Linked DNA regions of Homo sapiens. The protein of the gene in region 3 purifies or fractionates together with the protein of the main gene of each other region. This does not show direct contact. Each region holds a gene or a part of one and is shown on either strand. Other genes may lie near its edges. The genes, in order: TRPC4AP, PM20D2, LNP1, NUDT12 and GAN.

Region 1 (5,166 bases), on a different chromosome or scaffold from region 3:
ACTGGACTATGGGATGCCTACATGGCTGGCACAGCACTGTTTCTGGGTGTGTCTGTGAAGGTGATTCCAGAAGAGATTGGTGTATGAGTGTGTGAACTAAGGGAAAATCTGCCCTCAATGTGGGCAGGCACCATCCAATTGGTGGGGGAGCAGTGGGAGGCGATGGAGGAAAACAAAAAGGGATTCTCCCCCTTCTGGAGTGGGAAGTTTTTCTCCTACTGCTCTTGGATATCAGACTCCAGGATCTTTGGCTTTTGGTCTCTGAGACTTGCACCAGCAGTTTCTGGGGTCCTCCAGCCGGGGAGCTACACCATTAGCTTTCCTGGTTCTAAGTTTTCCGGACTTGGACTGAGCCATGCTAATGGCTTCTCAGGTTCTCCAGCTTGCAGACGGCTTATCTTTTATTTTATTTATTTATTTTTGGAGACGGAGTTTCACTCGTTGCCCAGGCTGGAGTGCAATGGCACAATCTCAGCTCACTGCAACCTCTGCCTCCTGGGTTCAAGCAATTCTCCTGCTTCAGCCTCCCAGGTTGTTGGGATTACAGGCGTGTCACCATGCCCAGCTAATTTTTGTCGCAGATGGCTTATCATGGGACTCCTCCGCCTGTGATCGTGTGAGCCAATTCCCCTAACAAATCCCACCTCATAAATCCTACTGCTTCTGTCTCTCTGGAGACTGCTGCCTAATACAGGGAAGTAATTAAGGTTAAATGAGGTTACAAAGTGTGGGGCCCTAAACCGAGAGGACTGGTGTCCTTCTAAGAAGAGGAAGAGACACCAGAGATCTCCGTCTCTCCTCAATGACAGAGAGGAAAATTCATATGTGGATACAATAAAAAGGTGGCCTTCTACAAGCCAGGAAGAAAGGCCTCAACCAGGAACCAATCCTGACAGCACCTTGATCTTGGACTTCTAGCCTCCAGAACTGTGAGAAAAATAAATGTCTGTTAGTTAAGCCACCTAGTCTACGGTACCTTGTTATGGCAGCTCAAGCTGACTGATACACACACCTGAGATAAAGGCATTCACTACTGGAGCGCAATTCAAGAATGATAACATTCAGAGGACTAAGACTTTCCTCATCCACTCGTGATTTAATTATGTCCACCAGCTTGGCCTTCCCAGGGCATTTGAATGGAGAAAATCGTGCGGGTAAGGGAATGGAGTAGGAATTATGGTCAGGGTTGGGAAGGGTCAGATCCTGCACAACCTCATGTGTGGAACTACAACTTTTAGGCTTTATCCCAAAAGCTACAAGCAGAATCACACATAGACTGTCTACTAGGCTAGTCACACAGATATGAAAGTGAATCTAGATTATTTTATAGAGACTTTAAGAAAAAACTCCCAAATAAAAAAACAAAAACAAAAACTGGGCTTTCCGTTCTCAGTTAATCAAAAAAGCCCAGCTGACCAGAACAGTTCATTCCTCAAGAATAATGGGTAATGCTGGTTTTACTTAAGTCAGTTTACAAATAGGCATCTGAAAGCAATCAATACTAACAGGATCAAAATCATCTGCCAGAATAGATTCCTTAAATGGGAAACTAAAAGATGAAAGTTACTTAGTGCCTCGGCATACACAGGCATCCAATACAGAACCTTTCTAGCCCTCAGTTTCCTCACATGTGCAATGGGGATACTAATCTCTATTCCACAGGGCACTTGAAGGATTAAATAAAATCACTTCTAGGTAAAGCAGTTACCCAGCGTTTGCCACATACCAGGAGCTTAGCAAATACTACCTTTTGTCAATGTATATGGAGGTGTGTACACCAGCTCTGAGGTATAATTTAGTTATAATGAAAGTCACTTTTTTTAAAATTATACTTTAAGTTCTAGGGTACATGTGCACAACGTGCAGGTTTGTTACATATGTATATATGTGCCATGTTGGAAAGTCACATATTTTTTAAAAATGTAAATTTCCTAAAATGAGAACTCCCCCAAAATCATAAAGGAGTGGGAAGAAAACCGTACACAGACCAAGGAAGACCTTGTATCTAGTGACACAGGAGGAAAAGCAAATCTAGAGAGAGAATAAACTGGGGTTGGAGTCCACAAACTTCTACCTTTACATATGACTACAACATGTAAAATTATATTCCCTAATAACCTACAAAGTATAGTTATGATCACCTCATGTTCCTAACTAAAACTAGACAATAACAGAGTGAATGGCAGGTTCATATTCAGCCTCAGGAGAGGAGGCTGCTCTGAAGCACTTGATAACTCTGCAGAGCCAGCCTGGGGAATGCACACAACTGGACTTTAGAAACAAAGAACTGTTTTCAGAGCATGATTAGGGCTACCTCTGCATGGTCATGGTTTTCTACTGCTGCTTTTTAATGATACATTTGTATAATTTTACCTTGTTTATTTGGTGTACCATAAGGTACACAGTGATAGGTTTTTGTATTAACAATATTTCCAGCCTGTTAACATTGAAAAACTAGCTTTTAAGACACAAGTTTCAGTTCAAATATGAATTATCTACACTCTTATGACCAAAATACATCTATGCCAGTTTCTCCAAAATCTGTGCAGGCAACAACATTTTAGATAGAACACAGTTCTTTTGCTACTGAACAGAAATAGGTGGGCTAGATTGGTTAGAATAGTGTTTTGTTTTTAAGTAATATATTTACACGGTTCTAAAATCAAACAATATATGAAAGTATACAGTAAGGAGTCCCACTCCCACTGCTACTACCTTCCCTTACCAGCTACTTCCTATTAATAACCACTTTATGTTTCTTGTGTACCCTTTGTTTCTTTAGGCATACCATATATGTGGGCAAACGTATGGTCTTATTCTCCCCCTGACTTAATACAAAAACTATACCATATACACACTGTTCTGTATTTTCCTCTTTATCATTAATATATCTTGGAGATTTTTCTATAGCAGTACATAGAGATCTTCATTTTTTCAAAGCTACACAATTTTCCATTATATAAATATTGAATACACTAAGCAGTCCAGTGTTAATGAACATCTGGGTTTCTAGTCTTTTGTTATTACAAATAATGTTGCAATGAATAATTTTTTTTTTTTTTTTTGAGACGGAGTCTAATTATGTCGCCCAGGCTGAAGTGCAGTGGTGCAATCTGGGCTCACAGCAACCTCTGCCTCCTGGGTTCAAGCAATTATCCTGCCTCAGCCTTCTGAGTAACTGGGACTACAGGCGTGCACCACCACACCCAGCTAATTTTTGTATTTTTAGTAGAGATGGGGTTTCGCCATGTTGGCCAGGCTGGTCTCAAACTCTGAACCTCAAGTGATCCTCCTGCCTCGGCCTCCCAAAGTGCTGGGATTACAGGCGTTAAGCCACCGTGCCTGGCCTCAGTGAATAATCTTGTACAGTAGTCCTCCCTTAGTCAAGACCCTCACAGTGGATACCTGAAATGGCAGATAGCACCAAACCCTATATATACTATGTTTTTTCTTATATACACACATAACTATGATAAAGCTTAATTTATAAATTAGGTACACTAAGAGATTAACAATAACTAATGATAAAATAGAACAATTGTAACAAGATGCTGTAATAAGAGTTATACGAATGTGGTCTCTCTCTGGAATTTTTCAGTTAATATTTTCGGATTGCAGTTGACCACGGATAACTGAAACCACAGAAAGTGAAACTGCAGACAAGAGGAGATTAGTGTCTATACATCATTATCTATAAAATGAAGGCCCAGGAGAGACTTAGTAGATCAAAAAGTATATGCATTTGTAATTCTGATAAAAAGTAGTTCTTAACTTTTTTTGTGGTTCTGAGCCCATTAACAAATCTAATGAAAGGTATGGAACTCAGTTCCCAAAATAATGAACAGATACACAAAATTTACATACTAGGAGCCTTCACATGGATCCATCTCTAGAGATATTTAAAAGGGGTGCTAGGTGTGGTGGCTCACACCTGTAATTCTAGCACTTCGGGAAGATGAGGTGGGTGGATCACTTGAGACCAGGAAGTCAAGACCAGCCTGGGCAACATGGCGAAACCCCATCTCTACAAAAAATACAAAAATTAGCCCGGTGTGGTGGCACCTGCCTATAGTTCCAGCTACTCAGGTGGCTGAGGTGGGAGGATCACCTGAGCCTGGGGAGGTCAAGGCTGCAGTGAGCCACGATTGTGCCACTGCACTCCTGCCTGGGTGACATAGTGACGATCCCATCTCAAAAAAGGAAAAAAAAAAAAAAAGAAAAGAAAAGAAAAAGAAAAAAAACTAGATGATTTAGTAAGGGCCTCAGAGCTATAATCTCAAAATTCTGAGAACTTGGAGACTTTACCTTGATTGATTTCAGCTGCAGAAGGCCCCAAACTCAAGCTCTTCTTCTGTTGAGCATTTTTGGCAAGAAGCGTGTGCTTGTCATCATTCCCTGTATCCATCTCTGAAATGGTGACAGCCAGAATCCGGCAGAAATTAGCGAGCTGCTGCTGATCGAAATTGGATACTAAGGAACTCAGATTGGGGACTTCATCTAGTCGGATCATTTCCTACAGAAGACAAAAATGAAACAATCCCCATGCTCAATTCACTCAAGAGATTGGATGTGCCTCTCTTTCGCATCCCCTTACATACGGGGCTTAGTGGCTAGATCACTTAGGTTCCTATCCCAGCTCTGTAACTTGCAGCTCTGAAACTTTGGTTAAGTTACAAAAACCTTTCGAGTCTTTGCTTGTTTATCTGTAAAACGGAACTAATCTACCTCACAGGATTAGTCTGAGGACTAAATTTACCTTTTGAGCACCACTGTTTTCAATTGTTCTTGTGGTATATTTTGCCTATTTAAAAAAAAAGGAAATGCCTACCACTCAAGTTTTGGAAATCATAAATTACCATTCTTGCTACAGATTTGCTTTTTTAAAAAATAAAATACTTCAAATATAGCTAAAGGCCTCTGTGTATCCCCCATCCAGTCGCATTTTTTTCTCTCCCTGCAGACGTAAACATTATTTTGAACTCTGTGTTTATTATTCCCGTGCATGTTTTTATACTTACAAATATTTCCATTAAAATACATGTTACTGCTCTGCATGCACAGTGTGAATGATACCATACTATACCTTACTTTTCATCCAACATTTTGAAGTTTATCTACACTGATACAAGCAGCTGATTCAATCACTTCCCGCCGTTTTACCCCACA
Region 2 (5,166 bases), on a different chromosome or scaffold from region 3:
GAGTAGCTAACATTTATCTGGAATACTACGTTCCAAACACAATCCTAAGTGCTTTGTATGTATTCTCATTAATATTTAGAACAGTTTCCATTTTAAACATGAAGAAACCAAGGCTTATGGGTATTAAATAACATGCCGATAGTCTCACAGCTGCTAGTTATGTGGTAAATGCAGACTGAGGCCAGACTTTGAGGCATAGTAGCCTCTATAGAAGTACTGCTTCAGAAAATATTCACTAAGCACTTAACTGTGCCAGAAACGGCTCCACACACTGAGGATGCACAGTAATGGGACATCAGTGAACAGGATGGAAAAAGCCTCTCCAGTGTTTAAAGAGTCTAAAGAGTCTGAGTGTAAAAACAAAACAAAACAAAAAAGGATGGACAAAAAAAAACCTGTTGCATATTTTAAGATCTTACTTGTGGAACTAGACCCTAGAGCCCACAAATCATACCAAAATCACAGCCACTTTATCCTACTGTTTTGTCCATTATATAAAACCCAAACCCGGGGTAGAGCAGGCCATGTGTCTTCCCTTCTTCAGCTAGACAGCAGAAACCTGCTAGGGTAAAAGAACAGAACCATGCTGAGCTGAGCTTTCTTGCTGTCCAGAACAAAAGAAAACATGAAACTCTGATGTCCCTGGACAACTCCTCTCAGTGGCAATTCTCTCTCAATCCCTCAGCCCTACCAGCTCAATGCTCACTGTGTGCTACTTCCTAGAGGGAAAGTCTCTGAACTCCCTGACCTCCTTCCTAAACATTACATCTACTTCTCAAGTATCTTCCCTTAAAAACTATTTTCTTTTCCGTATTTCCCTCAAGCTTGTATCCACTCTTTCTATTTTCCTTGAAAGCTAACTCTCTTGAAAAAGAATAGTCTTCATTTGCTACTTCCACTATCTCAGCAGTCAATGCCCTGGGTAGAGAAGTGAGACCCAGCATCTGGTACCACTGGTCTTATACTATTTTCTTCCAGACAATTCATGAATTTCTAATTACTAGAGTCCAGTGGACACTAGACCATATTCATCTTATTCAGTCTCTACAGCACTTGACATGATTTATGCCTCCTTCTCTTCTGTAAGTTTTCTTCTCCCTTGGCTTCCATGACTTCTCCTCTCTCCTGATTGTCTGGCTTTCTCTCTGACCACTTCGTTGACTGCCAATGTCTGATCTCTGGGAATCTTCTTCCTCTATGTATTTGGGCAACCTCATCGACATCTATGTCTTCTATATACCTTTCATATATGGACAACTCCTAAATCTCCAAACTAGACATCTTTTTGGGTTCTAGATTTAACAGGTACTGAACAGCTCCACTTAGAAATACTATAAGCACCTCAAGTTTAACATACTAATAATTTATAACAACCCCCTCTTACCCTAACCTGCTCTTTCTCTTGAACTCCTTATCTTAATGAATGACACCGACACCCCATTTTCACCACCAAGTCCTTTTGGGCCTACTTCAACAACATCTATTTTTAAAACAGATGATACATCTCTAACTTGCAAATGTATTAGTAATAATATGCTTTTAAAAGGAAAAAAAAACTAACATAACCCCAAATATGCTTATTTCAATTCTAGCTGTCTGTTGCTCCTCAGAAACTGAAAATGCCCCAGATAACTAAGTACTTAGTAACCTGCTTATTGTGATGACTGAGAATGAATTAAAATTCTATATCCCACCTTAGCAACTTACTTAAAAATTAAAACTAACGAAACTTAAACACTAGAAAATATTTAGAATACAGACAAAAATGTAGGTTGACTATTTCTAAAATCAAGTCTGCTCGTTTGACATTCTACACTCACTTAAGAGTCCATTAGTTTCTTTCCCCTAACCATAAAGTTTGTGAAAATATTAAAAACGTCAGTAGTACCTCCCGACCTCCCAAACCATTAAATACAACCAATTTAACCAAAGATGGTATTTCTCTTCCTCAAATAGCTCAATATATAAAAAAACACTTAATTACCTGAAGGGCCATTCAACATTGTATCTTCTGAAATGAACTCTATTCCTAGCTTTCTTCCATTTTCCATATAGGCTTTCCATAGGCTCTTATTGGGAAGAACATTGTAATAATCATGTGCTCCACCTTTAATTTCCACCTAATAAAAAATTGCAAAACAAATTTTGAAATAAAAAACTCAAATTCACTATCTAATTTTCAAACCAGTGATTGTTCTCTAATAGGAAGAGGTTTTAAGAGAAGATACTTTCCCTTCCAGATATAAACACTCTCAAATCTCTTACCTTAAAAAAGAAAAAAGATTTATTTTCTATAACGAGAGTTCCTAGGACTCTCTTTTATGCTATATATACACTAAACCCCACAATGTCACCAAGCTCTATACTAGCTACCAAGTGTCAACTTCAGTCACCTAGATAGGGTATGAGAAGGGCCCAGAAATTTTTATTTTATTTTTGAGATGGAGTCTCACTCTGTTGCCCAGGCTGGAGTGCAGTGGTGTGATCTCAGCTCACCACAACCTCCGCCTCCCAGGTTCAAATGATTCTCCTGCCTTAGCCTCCCAAGTAGCTGGGATTACAGGCGCCTGCCACCAAGCCCAGCTAATTGTTTTTGTATTTTAGTAGAGATGGGGTTTTGCCATGTTGGCCAGGCTGGCCTCAAACTCCTGACTTCATGTGATCTGCCCGTCTCGGCCTCCCAAAGTGCTGGGATTACAGGCATGAGCCACTGCACCCAGCCTAATTTTTATTTTAACCAGCACCTCAAAGTAATTCTGACATAGGTGACCCAAAAACCACACTCTGAGGAACACTGCTCTAGGATTCAGTCTCCAAAAAAAAGAAATTAAGCTTTACTAATATTCAATATGCAAACTGACACTGACATCACTGCCTGGTGTGAGAGGTAGAAAAGTACTCTGAGGGAAATGTAGAAGATTTGCAATGAGGAAGGGTTGACAACAGTCCTCATTTATTAATTTCAGTATATAAAGATACGGAAGCAGCTTTTATGTGCCCAGTTAAGTGGATTTACAGATTCAGTTTTGATTAAATAAAAATTGGCAATATTCCCTCAAACCAATATTAGCAAAAGCCAATCATAAAATGGCAGAGATGACATTTCTTTTATTCTTAGCAACATCTACGGTAGAAATTATGACAACCAAATCAGACCTTACAAGTCAGCCAAAATATAAGAAATTACTAAAAGATTATTTAAAATATAGATTTAGGCCAGGCAAGGTGGCTCACACCTGCAATCCCAGAACTTTGGGAGGCCAAAGCACGAGGATCACTTGAGCCCAGGAGTTTGAGACCAGCCTGGGCAACACAGGGAGAGCCTATCTCTACAAAAAACTTTAAAAATAAATAAATTAAATTAAATATAGATTCAAATCCAATAACAACAAACCTTACCATAAGGGAATACTGTATACCTTGAGATATTGCCTAATGATAATAGTTCACATCCATAAGTATTTCACAAATAAATATTTATAATTATAAATGAATAAGGGAATAAATATTTAGTTTTTACTGCCCTCAGCTATGGACATTTCACAGTTTTCATTCACTATAACCATCTTCTCTAGTGGCATATGAGAATACATCTTTGCTCCTACATCTGTCCATATGTTTATCGATTAACTACAACACAACACGAGCTTCTATATTCTTATCTTTGCTGACTATATTCCCTAAGAACTTTCAGTCTCTGTCTTTCCCATGCATATCTGAAAGTATGATCAACCTTCAAAGCTCAGTTCAGGTCTACAGTCTTCCACAAAACCTTCCTCCAAGGTTAACAGCCCCAGACCACTCTTTCCCACCTCTGATCCTCACGACACATTCCACACTACTCTCAGGACACGTAACATATGCTTTCTGAGAATTACTGCTACTGTGAGATACTGCTACTACGTGAATCAATCATACATCTCTAGACTAATAAGAACAGAAAAAAATAAGGCAATATAAATGAAGGCTGGGCTCTAAACCCTTCAGAAACATTATCTCATTTAATTCTCACAAGAATCCTAAGATAAATTGTTATTATCTCCATTTTTCAAGCAAGAAAATGGAGAGCCAAAGACACTAAACATTTCTAAAGGTTACAGAATTAGCTAGGCTGAGAGTTATGGGTCAAGATCTTGTCTCTCCAACTAGACTACAGGCTCCCTCTAGGGCAAGATTCTTATCTTGTATAATTCTAAAACTCACTCCACTTTACACAGTACATGATTTTAAATACTAACTTTATAGTTCAAATCAACAAAACCAGTCAGTGTGGTGGCTCACACCTGTAATTCCAGCACTTTGGGAGGCTGAGGTGGGTGGATCACAAGGTCAGGAGTTCGAGACCAGCCTGGCCAACATGATGAAACCTCGTCTCTACTAAAGATACAAAAAAATAGCTGGGTGTGGAGGCAGGCGCCTGTAATCCCAGCTACTCAGGAGGCTGAGGCAGGAGAATTGTTTGAACCTGGGAGGCAGAGGTTGCAGTGAGCTGAGATTGCGCCATTGCACTCCAGCCTGGGTGACAGGGCAAGACTCCGCCTCAAAAAAAAAAAAGAAAAAAAAAAATTAGCCAGGTGTGGTGGCAAGCGCCTGTAGTCCCAGCTACTTGGAAGGCTGAGGCATAAGAATCGCTTGAACCCAGGAGGCAGAGGAGGTTGCGTTGAGCCAAAATTGCACCACTGCGCTCCAGCCTGGGCAATAGAGCAAGACTTTGTCTCAAAAACAAACAAACAAACAGAAACAAATCAATAAAACCTCTTAACTAACTTCTGTGTCTATTTTATCTTCCATTCCAGCAAGCCATAGTATTTATATCACTACTATACACACCCTAACTTCAGAAATGGCTTTCGCTGGCTGGGCGAGGTGGTTCATGCCTATAATCCCAGCACTTTAGAAGGCCGAGGTGGGTGGATCACTTGAGCTCAGGAGTTTGAGACCAGCCTGGGCAACATGGTGAGACCCTGTCTCCAGAAAAACATACAAAAAATTAGCCACGTGTGGTGGTGCGTGCCTGTAGTCCCAGCTACTCAGCTGGCTGAGGTGGGAGGCAGAGGTGAGAGGATTGCTTCAGCCTGGAAGGCGGAGGTTGTAGTGAGCCAAGATCGTGCCGCTGCAACTCCAGCCTGGGCAATAGAGCAACACCCTGTCCCCCCACCAAAAAAA
Region 3 (5,166 bases):
GTAGGTAGGAAGAACAGTTTTACATTACCCATGTCACCCTTCCCCCAAGACCAGGCAGCACAGCCCGGAAAAAGATATTGTCTGCTTGGGAGGAAGAGAGGAAAGTAAAGGTAAGACTTTGCCTTGGACCCCAATACCAGGCCTGTCACAGTAAAACTCAGCACTGGGTAGACCCCCCCATGACCCATGACTTCAGGCCAGTAACTGCAGACTGAGACTCTAGACCCATCCCGGCAGCAGATGGGAAACCATAGCCCCTGTGAGACAAACTTGAGTTCCAGCCCACATCACCATCAGCCAACTACAGTGGTCTTGGGATCCAAATAACCCACAGCAACAGGCAGGCCCCCTCAGTGGCTGCAAGCTTCAGATGTACCCCAGTGCTGCAGTAGCCTCAGCAGCTGTGGGCTTTGGGTGCACCCAAGTGCTGCACCAGCCTCAGCAGCCACAGGATTCCATCCCAGTGCTAAGTCAGCTTCAGTGACTACGGGATTTCAGCGTGGCACTGTGCTGGTCACAGTAGGGAGTACATAGCACTCCCTAGAGCTGGAAGGGCTGCAGTGGTCACAGGCTCGGAGACCACACCAAATGACCTGCCTAGAATCTCTGGACAGGCTTACTGTTAGAGGATGTTCCCAGACAAAGCCAGATTGTGAGGGCTGGAATAAGTAACTGCTTCTTGAATGCACACACACTGACACATGACCACAAGAACAATCGGGGAATCATGACATCACTAAACAGACAAAATAAGATGCCAGTCATAGACCCTAAAGACACAGATATATCAACTATCTGCCAAGGAATTCAAAACAGCTGTTTTAAAGAAGCTCAAAGAACTTCAGAAAATACAGAGAAACAAGTCAACAAAATTAGGAAAATAATAAATGGTCAGATGAGAAATTTACCAGATAAATTGAAATAATAAAATCAGACCAATTTTGGAGCTGAAAAATACAATGAATGTAAAAATGTAATAGAGAGCATCAAGAGCAGGATTGATCAATCAGAAAAAGAATCTGTAAACTTGAAGACAGGTTATATGAAAATATACAGAGGAGAAGAAAGGAAAAAGAGTGGAAAGGAATAAAGAAACTTTATAGGGTTTATGGGATAGTATCAAAAGAGCAAATACGCAAATTACCAGCATTCAAGAGGGAGTAGAGAAAGATAAGGGTGTAAAAGGCTTATTTAAAGCAGTAATAGCAGAAAACTTCCCAAACCTGGAGAAATATATAAATAGCCAGGTACAGGAAGGTCAAAGATTTGCAATTAGATTCAATCCAAATAAGACTATCACAAGACATATTATAATCAAACTCTACAGATCTAAGACAAAGACAGGATCCTAAAAGCAGCAAGACAAAAAAAGCAAGTAACATATACGGCAGTTCCAATATGCCTAGCAGCAGATTTCTCAACAGAAATCTTACAGGCCAGGGAAGAGTGGTATGATATAGTCAAAGTGCTAAAGGAAAAAAAAGACTGTCAATCAAGAATACTGTACTCAGCAAAACTGTCATTCAGAAATGAACATGAGATAAAGACTTTCCTAGTCACACAAAATCTGAGGGAGTTCATCACCACCAGACCTGTCTTACAAGAAATGCTAAAGGGTGTTCTTCAAGCTGAAAGGACACTAATGATAAACACAGAAACATCTGAAAGTATAAAACTCCCTGGCAAAAATACGTACATAGCTAAATTTAATTTATAATACTCTGATACTGTAATGGTAGCATTTAAATACTGTAATGAGGGTGTGTAAATCACGTATCTTTAGTAGGGCTAAAAGATAAAAGTATTAAAATTAATAACTACAGCAACTTGTTGATGGATATGCAATATAAAAATACTTAAATTGTGAAATTGAAAGCACAAAATATTGAGGAAAGGAAGTGGAGTTAAAGTGTAGTTTGCATGTGTATGTGTAAATAATCAAAGTTAACTTGTTATCAGTCTAAAATAACCTGTAATATCTATGTTTTTTGAAGCAAAAACCGACAATAGATACACTAAAAATAAAAATCAGCCAGGCGAAGTGGCTCATGCCTGTAATCCCAGCACTTTGGGAGGCTGAGGCAGGCGGATCATGAGGCCAGGAGTTTAAGACCAGCCTGGCCAACATGGCAAAACCCCGTCTCTACTAAAAATACAAAAATTAGCCAGGCATGGTGGCGGGCACCTGTAATTCCAGCTACTTGGGAGGCTGAGGCAGGAGAATCGCTTGAACCCGGGAGGCGGAGGTTGCAGTGAGCCGAGATCATGCCATTGCACTCCAGCCTGGGCAACAAGAGCAAGACTCCATCTCAAAAAATAAAAATAAAAAAATAAAAATCAAGCAATCAAAAACACCACCACAGACACATTTATAATGTTTAAACAAGTATCTGGGTATCCCATGGCCCAGTCAAATTGACACATGAAATTACCCATCACACCACCTATATTCTGGGCTCTGGCTGTACAAAATGAACAGTTTCTGTCCTCGTGGGGCTTACATCCTATTGAGGGGATCACACTATTTTTTTATTTTTCCCACAGACAAGTGTACACCTGAGAGGTTTTTTTTTTCTTGAGGCGGCATCTCACTCTGTCACCCAGGCTGGAGTATAATAGGGTAATCTCGGCTCACTGCAACCTCCGCCTCTGGGGTTCAAGCGATTCTCCTGCCTCAGCCTCCTGAGTAGCTGGGATTACAGGCATGTGCCACCATGCCCGGCTAATTTTTGTATTTTTAGTAGAGACAGGGTTTCACCATGTTGGTCAGCCTGATCTTGAACTCCTGACCTCAGGTGATCCACCCGCTTCGGCCTCCCAAAGTGTTGGGATTACAGGCACAAGCCACTGCACCCGGCCCACATAGGTAATTTCTAATAGTGCTAGGTGCTAATATCGTAGACCAAAGAAAGAGAAGAGGTGTATGAAGGGAGGCATGGGTGGGCAGAAATGTTGAACTTTATAGTGAAAGTGAAGAGGATTTAAAAGTCTTTCAGCTCAAGAGTGAAATTACAGTTATGCTATAGGAAGAGTAAATTGATATCAAGGTGCAGGGTGACACATAGAAGAGAGGCACTAGAGGCAGAGAAATTATCTGGGAAGCAAGCAAATATAGGATTTAGGCAAGATGAAGGAAATGAATAAAAGAGAAAAAAGAGGGGAATGTAATAGTATTAGGAGTTGAGGCCTTTGGGAAGTGATTAGATCATGAGGATGGAGCCCTTAAAAATAGGATGAGTGCCCCTATAAAAATGAGACTCCAGAGAACTTTCTTGCCCCTTTCCACTATTTGAGGACACAAACCAAATTTGCAGTCCTCAACCCAGAATAGGGCTCTTACAGAATTTGACCATGCTGGCACACTGATCTCAAACCCCCATCCTCAGGAATTGTGAGAAATAAATTTCTATAGTTTATTAGCTAAGTAGTTTTATGATATTTTTGTTATAGCAGCCTGTACTAAGATGGGAAGAAACTATTTATTGAGTATCTGTTATGTGTTATACATACTCTTAGGAGTTTTCACTTATATGAACTAAGAAGTGTCAGAATGGGTGAAAAAACTATAAGAAAGATATTACAACAAAGTTGAATTTGTTGAAGACTTCACAGCTGATTTTGTGTTTATGTGTGTATATAAATACAACAGCATAATCATTTGTGCTTGGGTAGGTAAGGATGAAAAAGAGAGAGGTCTAAAAAGGTCTATGGTTTCAAATATGAGTAACTGCTAAGGTAATAGTGGTATTATTAGAAAAAATGGATAACACAGGCTGGGTACAGTAGCTCATGCCTGTAATCCCAGCACTTTGAGAGGCCGAGGCGGGCGGATCACGAGGTCAGAAGATCGAGACCATCCTGGCTAACACGGTGAAACCCCGTCTCTACTAAAAATACAAAAAATTATCCAGGTGTGGTGGCGGGCGCCAGTAGTCCCAGCTACTCGGGAGGCTGAGACAAGAGAATCGCTTGAACCCAGGAGGCAGAGGTTGCAGTAAGCCGAGATCACACCACTGCACTCCAGCCTGGGCAACAGAGCGAAATTCCATCTTGGAAAAAAAAAAAAAAAAAGGATAACACAAAGAGAAAGAATGAGTGGGGAAAATGATGAGTTATATTTTTGACAAAAGTCAGGAATCCAAGCAAAACTGCTCAGTAAGTAGTAAGAAATATAGGGCTAGAGGTAAAAAGGGAAGCTATGCCAAAAGATATATAGACAGTGATTATCTGCACAGAAATGGTACCTGAAGCAATGAGATTTACTTTGGTTACTAATGGAGAGATTGAAGATAAAGAAGAAGACATATTCTAATAAATTCCTCACTTGAGGAATATCTAGAGCTGTGCTGTCCAATATGGTAGTCATTAGCCACATGATACTACTTAAATCAATTAAATAATGAAAACTGTAGTCTTTGTCACACTACATTTCAAGTGCTCAATAGCCACATGTGGCTAGTGGCTACCATATTGGACATCATAAATATAAATCATTTCCAGCATCATAGAAAGCTGTGATGGACAGCACTGATCTAGAGTTTGGTCAGAGCGTAGAAGAACCAGAAGACTCTATTCTCCTGAAGCCAAGGAAAAGAACATTTCAAGGAGAGAATAATCAGTGGTATCAAGTAAAAGTGGGTGACAGCCAACCTCCCCCACCCACAAAAAAACCACAATGAATTTTATGACTTCTAAAGCACTTTCAGCCTAATTATAAAGTTGTAAACTAGATTACAACAGATTTTGGATGAAATGGGTGCCAAATAAGTAACAGATGTAGACAATTCTTTTCAGTAATTTTTCAGTAAGGAAAAACAGAATGAAAACATCAGACAGCTGAAAGAGAATAGAGCTGTTCTATATGTACATGCTTAATATAAGCAGATTTGTGCACTGGCTGGAAGGTTTGGACACCAGTCAACCAGCTATTTACCAACTCTAGCAATCTGAAAGGCCTTTCATGTAGCAATGACAATTGAAGGGACAGAATTACATCATTTTAAAACAATAAGGAGCCTTAAAAATAATCTAATCCACCCCTCCTCACATTATAAAGAAAGCAGAGTTGCCCATGGTCACACACACAACTCAGTGGTATTAAAATTTAGAATAAGAATTCAGGTCAGCTGGGCATGGTGGCTTATGCCTGTATTCCCAGCACTTTGG
Region 4 (3,883 bases), on a different chromosome or scaffold from region 3:
TCATCACAAAATGAAATAAAGCCAATGTTTTAAATTAAATATGTAAATCTGCCTGGGACTTATTTAATATCCGACCTTTGAGGAGAATTCCTTTCAAGTTTAATTTCAGTGCAAAAGCAGAGAATCTTGGTTTGTCTTAATAACAGCTTTAGGTATAAGTAACATATAAGTAGATATGTTAATTAATTTTAGGTCTAAAAGAGAGGTCCCAGATATAATAGTATGCTTTTCTCCTTCCATGAGGGTGTGGTATTGAGATCACTATTAAATTATTAAATTAGAAAATTCTTAACACTGGTCAAATTAGACGAGTGGCGACACTATAACACCTCCACTGCTAGAACAATGGAACCCCCAGGAAAGAGCAAGTGGGACTACAATGGGGAGATGAACAAAAACCATATATTGACAACTTAAAGGTAACAAAAGGACTAAAAAATCAATGCCAGCTAACTCAAGCTAATACAAGCTAAAAATTCATTAAAATTACTTTGATTCATTTCTCAAATCAGGAACTTTCTTCATCATCAGTTTAATGCTTACAAGAGGCACTGAAATTTATGCACATTTCTAGAACATCTTTCCAACATGATGTCTCTTATTAGAAAAATGGTTTTGTGAGATAAAACTGTGAAGGAAGAAAAGAAACCAAGAGAGAAAAAGTTCAGAGAAGACTGACCCAAATTTAACATAATCTGAGGCAATATTGTAAAAATGTGTAAAAATATGAATTTGTGATTAAGACAGAACACTTTGAAAATATTTCGAAAACCCAACATCGTATTTTGTGTTGTGACACTCTCAAGAGTACTGAATAATCTCTAATATCACTTGAGGAATGAGTGTTATTAGAAATTATTAAATAATACTCAAAGCTTAGTTCTTAGATTTAGAGATTAGGATTTATTCTAATCCAGTGTTTGATTAATTGATGTGCAATAGCTCGGCTTGGTGGCACAAAGAATGCCTGCTGCTTCCCTTTGGTCAGAACATCCAGGACCTAAAACACACCATAATAGAATGCATTAGGATTTCAAAGCTGTCATATTTAAATACTATTCCCATGTTTACATAATTCAATTAAAATGTGATGAGTTTTACAGTGAATAACAACAGTAGAAAGTGACAACATCCATATTTACATGCAAAGTTTTTTTTTTTTTGGAAACAAGGTCTTGCACTCTGCCACCCAGACTGGAGTTGCAGTGGTGGGATCATGGCTCATTGCAGCTTTGACTTCCTGGGCTCAGGCGATCCTCCTGCCACAGCCTCCCAAGTAGCTGGTACCATAGGTGCACCTGGCTAACTTTTTAAAAATTATCTGTAGAGACAGGGTCTCCCTATGTTGCCCAGGCTAGTCTCAAACTCCTGGGCTCAATCAAGCTTCCTGCCTTGGCCTTCCAAAGTTCTGGGATTACAGGTATAAGCCACCACGCCCCGCCTCAACATGCAAAATTTAGGACAGCATTTTTAATTGCTTCACTGAGTAAGTGATTCAGTTTCTAAAATGTTCCAGAAAGACACATTCCCTTATGAAAATGACATCACGAAAAAGCAAAATGTACGCTCCACACTTAATTTCTAAGCAAAGCCAACTTTTGAAACAGATTCTTTTTTATAAAATTCATAAGCAATAATCTAATTTCCATCTTTTAGGATTAAGCATAGAATAAAATTAATTTTATGCAGGCAAAGTCAGAAAGAATTTCAGGTCAGATGAGTAATTTATCTTTTAATATATTATTTAGGAATGACATTTTAGAAAGTTATTTTAAGTGTATGTTTATTATACAGTTATGTCATTCTTGTCCTTAAGTACATTTTAAAATGAATAAAAACTTTCTGAAAATTTTAAGCACTTACTGATGTTTTTTGAGAGCTACTTGTTTTAATGTTATAAACTAAAATATAAAATGTATAAGAATATTCCTGTTTCTCATCTATGAATTAATGTTTTTCTAAACCCACTGATAGGTATTATTATTTATGTGAAGGAATGGAATCTGAAACTCGAAATGGTACAGAATCATCTCTACTAGAAAAATCTCATAGAATAAGTTAATATAGATCACATTAGTGAAACATACTCCTCCTGTATGGAATTACTAATTACCATGTAATCCATGCATAATGAGAGGGCCAAAGGCATCATTCAACTTGCTGAAAATATGCATCCTTGCTCTGTGACCAAACCAATACAGTCAGGGAACAATCAATAGAAGAAGGAAATTAAATTGAACTTTACCTGTTCTCTAGTGAACCAGCGGGCATCCTCTATTTCATTCTTGTCAACTTTAATTTCTGTAGACACTGCTAGAGCTAAGCAACCAATCATTAAGGAGGAAGGCATTGGCCATGGTTGACAAGCAACATACTGAACATGGCCAACTTTGACTCCACTTTCCTCTTCTACTTCTCTCCTAACAGCATCTTCTATTGTCTCTCCTAATGAAATGGAGCAAAAGAACAAGTTGCTGATGAACATGCCCGGGACACTTTGTGTCCTGAATGGTTCAAACATCTGGAAATCACTTTGGACAGAAACCCAATGCAAATAATCAGAAAGCAGAAGCCTAAAACTAGACTGTAATTGAAGAAAACAATTTTTTTAAAGTACATGACCACATATAGAATATCAAAATGCCAACAATAAACTTTTCGTTTTTTTAAGGTACAAATTTGTCAGTTACATTTTAAAAATAATGATACCATCTAAAAATATCCAATACCTAATACTGGTTAAACACTATGCAAACACTTTATATCTTATCTCATGTATATATTGTCCACGAAATAGTTATAAATTACATGATTTTTACAAATAGCTCTTTCACACTAAAATTCTGAAACTTTTTTTTATTATGTTGTCAAACAATTATTGCAGGTAACTCTTTTCAGGTCATTACAAGATTACAAACTACATAAGATGAAATTTAATACTTTTTCTAAGCAATTATTTTCCTCTAGATGACTGCTGACTCTGCTATGGTAAGTGATGCCTATAAATGTACTTTATATTTCTAATTTGTTGGAATTAAGAATTAGAATAGGGGAAATTGTTTCTAAGTAAAATCATTTCTAAGTAAAATCTGGAAGTTTAGAAACATTTTGCTAAATATTGCTGTATTTAGCAAAATATATTTTAAATATAGCTTTCTATTTCAAATAGATTGATAAATTTCCTACATGAAAATTAACTTATAATAATCAAAAGAACACATATAGTAAAAATATAATTATAGACTAGTGTAAGGTATTTGCAAAACCATAACTAACAAAAGATTAGCATATGCTACATATTTAAGAATTCTTAAAATGAATAAAAAAGGATAAACAATGAAAACAAAACTAGGTAAAAGATAAACATCTAAAATTCAGAGAAAAGAAAACTGAATGCCTAATACACATTTGAAAAAAGATGTTCCATAGGCAAGAAAATGAAAATGAAAACGAGATACGATTTCATTCACTCCTCAGAATGACAAATTTAAAAGTCTGAAAATCCTAACTTGGTGAAGATGTGGAATAATGGAACATTTCATGTTCTGCTGGAGGAAGTGTAAATTGGCAGAAACACTTCAGAGACAACTTGGCAACATACAGAAAAGGTTAAGATGCTCATAACACATGAGCTGGTCGTACTACTCTATGTATATAACCTAGATAACTCTTGCAAATGTGCACAAGGAGAAGTATAAAAATATTAATTGCAGTGCTGTTTGTAATAAGAACTTTAAAATAAACTAAATGTCCAATCAGCAGAATGGATAAATAGTGGAATATCCATGAATGGATTACTACCCAGCAGTTAAGACAATGACCTAGAACTACTAAAGACAGCATAGTGATTTGGAGCAAGAACTCAGAAACCAACATGCCCAGG
Region 5 (5,166 bases), on a different chromosome or scaffold from region 3:
ATTTCTCGTACTAATGGTTCATTCAGCATCTGTTCCCGTAAATAACTGGAGTCCAACCCTGAAACCCACAGAGCTGACATAACATCCTTCATGTGGACCTGCAGAAGAGGGAAGAAAGATGGGGCGAAAACAATGGAAAATGCAACACATCATTTTTAGAATCTACATTTTCCACCTCATGGAAAACAAACTGTTAACACTCAGGTTATTACCAGGCAAGTGAGACACACTCGTGCTGCTTGAATATCTTCTCCTGGCCCTAACTGTCTACTTCCCAGAGTCTTGATAAGTAAAAGTTTAATTTTTAAAAATCATCAGTTTATTTGAGGTATCACTGTAAAAGTTTCAAGCAGCTTCCTTTACACCTTAAAGGATTCCCATTTCAATAGGAAAAGACAGGAAAAGAACCAGCTATAATTTGCTTTATTTCACACATTTGGATGTGCCATGAGTTAAATCATGTTTATACAAATATTATATACAGTAATAGCTCAATACAATATGGTAAACTTAGACATCAACATTAATAATACAAGAAAAATATACAAAAGCCAAAGTTTAAAAAAAAACCTGAGTACTATATAATCATTTTTGCAGTAATTACTGTTCAAAAATATCTAAGACGACTAATATGAATTTACACTTTTACTGCTCAATCACTAAATTTGAACTGACGAAAGTATTTTATAAATGTAAAATAAAACTGTGAGTTTTAAAAATCAACTGTCTTTACAGCATGAAGTTTAAACTGACCAAAGGACAAAGAACTGCCTCGTTTTCCCAGCAACCAGCCAACCTTAAGCATCTCCCTTGCTTTAAGGCAAGAAGAGGGCAGGACGGAAGCTGGCAAGGAGCAGCATGTCCCACTGTGGTCTTGGTGAGTGGGAGCACATAGGAAATTTTTCTCATTTTTCTATCTCCTTTACCAATTTCCCCAACTAACATGGAAAGCAGAACACTACCTGTCCTTACCTGTCCCAATTAAAACCAATACTACAAATATGGTTTCTAAACATGCATACTTATGGGCTTACAGAATTCAAAAAATTATAAGATAATCATCAAAATTTAACAGTCCAGTTTTAACTTACAAGAACAATTAACAGTAAAATTATACATTGTGAGATCCACTCTCTAACACCTAATATATTTCTTATTTTGAAAACAGTAATTGGAGCTAGTGTCTTATTTATAATAATCAGACTTAAAAATGAAGTCCTGGCTGGGCATGGTGGTTCACACTTGTAATCCCAGCACTTTGGGAAGCTAGAGTGGGAGGATTGCTTGAGCACAGGAGTTTGAGACCAGCCTGGGCAGCACAGCGAGACCCTGTCTCTACAAAAATCAAACAATTAGCTAGGCATGGTGGCACACGCCTGTGGTCCTAGCTACTCGGAGGCTGAGGTGGGAAGATCACTTCAGCCAGGAAGGTTGGGACTGCAGTGAGCTATGATCGTGCCACTCTGGCTACTGCCCTTCAGCCTGGGAGACAGACTGAGACTCTCTGCCCCCTCAAAACCCTCAAGTCCTGTGATTTTGCTCCTTCCTCCAAGGTATTCACAATTTGGATCTAGAGGCTGATATTCTTTAAGACCTTCACTCCCAGAACCTTCCCTCTTGAAACTGCACTGCCACACAAACTCCAGAGCCTGCCTGCTTTCTCCTGCGTGGTGTCAATCACACCTGAAGCTCCTCAGGCCCATGCCCCTCCACCCCTGCCATCGATCCACGTGCCACCCCCCTGCCTGCTGCAGGCACCTGAGGCCTGGCAGAGGTTAGCCTAGTGATATAGTAGGTCAGGATGCTGAGAGCAAGGGTGGGGATACTGCGTTTCTATAATCTCCAGCTTAAGCTTGAAATGCATTTTCCCATTAAAAACAACATACAAAGGATATTACGCTCCTTACAAGGGCTAATATTTTCACTGATATATTGTGTGGCATGGGCTTTTGCAGACTGGTCTGAAAAACCAACTGCTTTCATGATATAGGGGAACATGTTTTACAGGTATCTTTTAGATTGCTGCATCGTAAGTCTTTCATGATGAAGAAGAAAAATAAAACAACTAAAATTTGAATTAAAAAGAAATAAAAAGGCAAATTTGACCATGTTATAAATGACAGGTACCTTTCTTATTTCTGTATCATGTGCTATCCATCGAATTACTGCTTCAAAGACATATCTTTCATTGCCAACGTTTAACTTCTCAAGAGAAATCACTTCTTTAAGCTTTTGAGGACTCAGCTCTAAGAATTCTTCCGTGCTGCTGACGTCTCGGAAATGAGTCTCCAGGTATTCTGTGGCAAGGTAATGAACGTGATGGAGGCAGTAATGTAGTGCAAAGTCACGGATACCAATACAGTTCTCAGCAGCAATGCAGCCTTCCAAAAACTCACAGCACAGGGTTTTAAGGTCCGTCAGTAGCAGCAGGTCAGCTGCCTGAACAACATCTTGGATTGTATCTTCATTTAGCCTGATCTAAAAAAGTAGCATAATTATCTTATATTTGAATGTGTACATTTAAAACCCAAACCACTAACCTATTAATTGGGGCCACATGAAATTTCCATTTATTTTAGATCAAAGATAATCGAATATTGGCAATTTCATATGGTTTAACCCAGCATTTTTTTTTTTTTTTCCAAGAGTTGGAAGGCACCAACATAAGCAAATGTGTGCTTGGTTAACTTTTCCCAGCTCTGCCCTTGCTGTACCAATGTCAACCACCAATAACCCTTTTAGGGTGAACTGTCCATGTTGTTCACTTCTGTAATTCAGAGAAAAACCTTAATGACTCAAATGCTTGGGAAATGGAAAGTTCTACATTCTATGGTAAAGTCAACATGATTAAGTACCAGCATCAGAACTGATGAAAATCTTGCCTCCCCACCTATGAAGTTCACTCTTCCGCTAAATGGCATGCCAACCTGAATGCTAACCCCTTGAAGGGAGAGGGGTTTCCAGTGTTTCAGAAGCCTCATTCCGCATCCCAAAACACTGTACGCAGTGCAATTTGGTACACAGACAGATACACTTAGGTCTCAAAACTACTTTTTGGAATAAATCCCTAATACAAGGGTGTTTTTTTTTTCTCATTATGAACATCTACTTTTCCTTAATTTTCTTCAATTTTCTGACTAATGCTTCTTCCTCCACTGACTTCACAGTGCTCCAAAGCATCAGGAAAGAAACAGTTCTCTAAAATATTGCCACAGTCCTAAGTGGACGACCCCAAAGCATGGGCACTTCACCCACATTCGCAAATGCAAGGGAGACTTCATGAGGAGTATAGCAAGAAACATTTTTACATTTTACACTTTTTGTACCACAGATTTTTAAAAAAGTATAATTGCCAATCATCTTAGAAACTGAGCAACAAAAATGTGGAAAGTAGTATGGTGAGTAAGCCACAAGTAGGGGAAAATGTTCCATTTATATGACATTATATTTAGCCACAAGACAGCAGGCAGCTGTAGACTCTTCAAATATAGGCACGTGAAAAAAACACTCAACTGCATTTCAATAAAACAAAACTGCCAATTCAGGAGTTTGTTATAACTTACATTCCAACTATCGTTTTTTTTTTTTTTTGAGACGGAGTCTCGCTCTGTCGCCCACGCTGGAGTGCAGTGGCGCAATCTCGGCTCACTGCAGGCTCCGCCCCCTGGGGTTCACGCCATTCTCCTGCCTCAGCCTCCCGAGTAGCCGGGACTACAGGCGCCCGCCACCTCGCCCGGCTAATTTTTTGTATTTTTAGTAGAGACGGGGTTTCACCGTGTTAGCCAGGATGGTCTCGATCTCCTGACCTCGTGATCCACCCGCCTCGGCCTCCCAAAGTGCTGGGATTACAGGCGTGAGCCACCGCGCCCGGCCCCAACTATCGTTTTAAATTTAAATTGGGAACAAATCACAGAACTCAATCTGTAAATAATGTTTCAACTTTCAAATCCAAGCCTGAACATGAATAGGCTCTTACTGGCTTATAACTCATTATACTAATAACTGCTGCTGGATTGACTTTACAAGGTGGAGGAGAGGTTGGTCTTAGCCCTGGTTATGTGATGCTACAGAGCATCTCTGGGCTGTCCCCAGATTAACTTAAATTCATTTACTTTTAACAATCATACACGTACACACCCACCCACTAGTGCTGAGAGAAGAGAGAAAGCATGAAATCAAACCAAAACCTTCAAAAAGGATGAGAATCACTGCGTTTAACTCTGGACAGAATGAATATATTTAGATAAAGAAAGCAATACATTCAGAATACTTAGAAAATATGTAAGACAAACAGCCCCTACAGAAAGGAAAACAAGAGGGATAAAGAAAGAATAAAGGAGAGAGTAGGGAACAAGATCTCAGAAAGAATAAAGATGAAATGCATTCTCACACAGCCAAAGGTAAGATGCACTGACCTCTTCCTTCTGTTAAAAAAACAAAACAAAAAACTAGCCCTGATTCACACGGAAGATTTTTCTTGAGTCCTCATGCTTTGCTTGAAATCACGTCATGGGGAATGGGTAGTCGGAGGAGGGCAAAGGAAAAGAAAGAAGTCTGATCGTTTATCATTCTCCTCCCTGGGTATCACAAAGTCCCCAGAGGTTCAAGTGGACATGGAGAGGGAAGAGAGAATAAGGGTGGGGCAGGGATGTGGGTACTACTGAGGCAACAGGACCAGGGCATCGTGAATAAGGTGCTTGTCATGTCTGTCAGTCATCTTTCTCTGGGAATGATCTACAAGGAACTCTCTATTTCTACCAAATAATCCACAACGCCCCAGGAAGTTCCTATTTCCATGCTATGGAGACAAAACAAGTTTTGTATCCCCAGTCATATGGATACAAAGCAAGACTGGAATCGGGATTCCAAAGCAAAAACCAAAAACACAGCAGTCAGGGCAGCATCCCATGTTCTTTAATATCTCATATGAGAAGGTGGAGCTCAGAATGGTAGCAACAAACTGAGATTTGAGTCTAAGATCTTACTTCCTCTGCTTCTCTAGGAGCACAGCCATGGAAGAACACACATGGGGTGCCATTACCAGTAGGAAATGTCAGTCAATGCACACAGTGACAGAAGATGAAGATGACAGTGCTACTTTGTCATATAATGGATGAAAGGAGACCCTCACCCTGAGCTTGAGAAGCCTCTACTTAGGTCTTCCTT

The links.
Region 1: the proteins of LNP1 (region 3) and TRPC4AP purify together in Homo sapiens (affinity purification with mass spectrometry; one large-scale study listed by BioGRID and IntAct). This does not show direct contact.
Region 2: the proteins of LNP1 (region 3) and PM20D2 purify together in Homo sapiens (affinity purification with mass spectrometry; one large-scale study listed by BioGRID and IntAct). This does not show direct contact.
Region 4: the proteins of LNP1 (region 3) and NUDT12 purify together in Homo sapiens (affinity purification with mass spectrometry; one large-scale study listed by BioGRID and IntAct). This does not show direct contact.
Region 5: the proteins of LNP1 (region 3) and GAN purify together in Homo sapiens (affinity purification with mass spectrometry; one large-scale study listed by BioGRID and IntAct). This does not show direct contact.

What each region holds. Positions count from the first base shown.
Region 1 is NC_000020.11:35,040,200-35,045,365, forward strand, and holds part of TRPC4AP (short transient receptor potential channel 4-associated protein), read right to left. Parts: intron 4,514-5,166; coding exon 4,306-4,513; intron 1-4,305. UniProt on the Homo sapiens protein: Substrate-recognition component of a DCX (DDB1-CUL4-X-box) E3 ubiquitin-protein ligase complex required for cell cycle control.
Region 2 is NC_000006.12:89,155,279-89,160,444, reverse strand, and holds part of PM20D2 (xaa-Arg dipeptidase), read right to left. Parts: intron 2,121-5,166; coding exon 1,985-2,120; intron 1-1,984. UniProt on the Homo sapiens protein: Catalyzes the peptide bond hydrolysis in dipeptides having basic amino acids lysine, ornithine or arginine at C-terminus. Postulated to function in a metabolite repair mechanism by eliminating alternate dipeptide by-products formed during carnosine synthesis.
Region 3 is NC_000003.12:100,403,697-100,408,862, reverse strand, and holds part of LNP1 (leukemia NUP98 fusion partner 1), read right to left. Parts: intron 1-5,166.
Region 4 is NC_000005.10:103,549,972-103,553,854, forward strand, and holds part of NUDT12 (NAD-capped RNA hydrolase NUDT12), read right to left. Parts: intron 2,446-3,883; coding exon 2,246-2,445; intron 1,001-2,245; coding exon 890-1,000; 3' UTR 1-889. UniProt on the Homo sapiens protein: mRNA decapping enzyme that specifically removes the nicotinamide adenine dinucleotide (NAD) cap from a subset of mRNAs by hydrolyzing the diphosphate linkage to produce nicotinamide mononucleotide (NMN) and 5' monophosphate mRNA.
Region 5 is NC_000016.10:81,351,717-81,356,882, reverse strand, and holds part of GAN (gigaxonin), read right to left. Parts: intron 2,479-5,166; coding exon 2,128-2,478; intron 99-2,127; coding exon 1-98. UniProt on the Homo sapiens protein: Probable cytoskeletal component that directly or indirectly plays an important role in neurofilament architecture.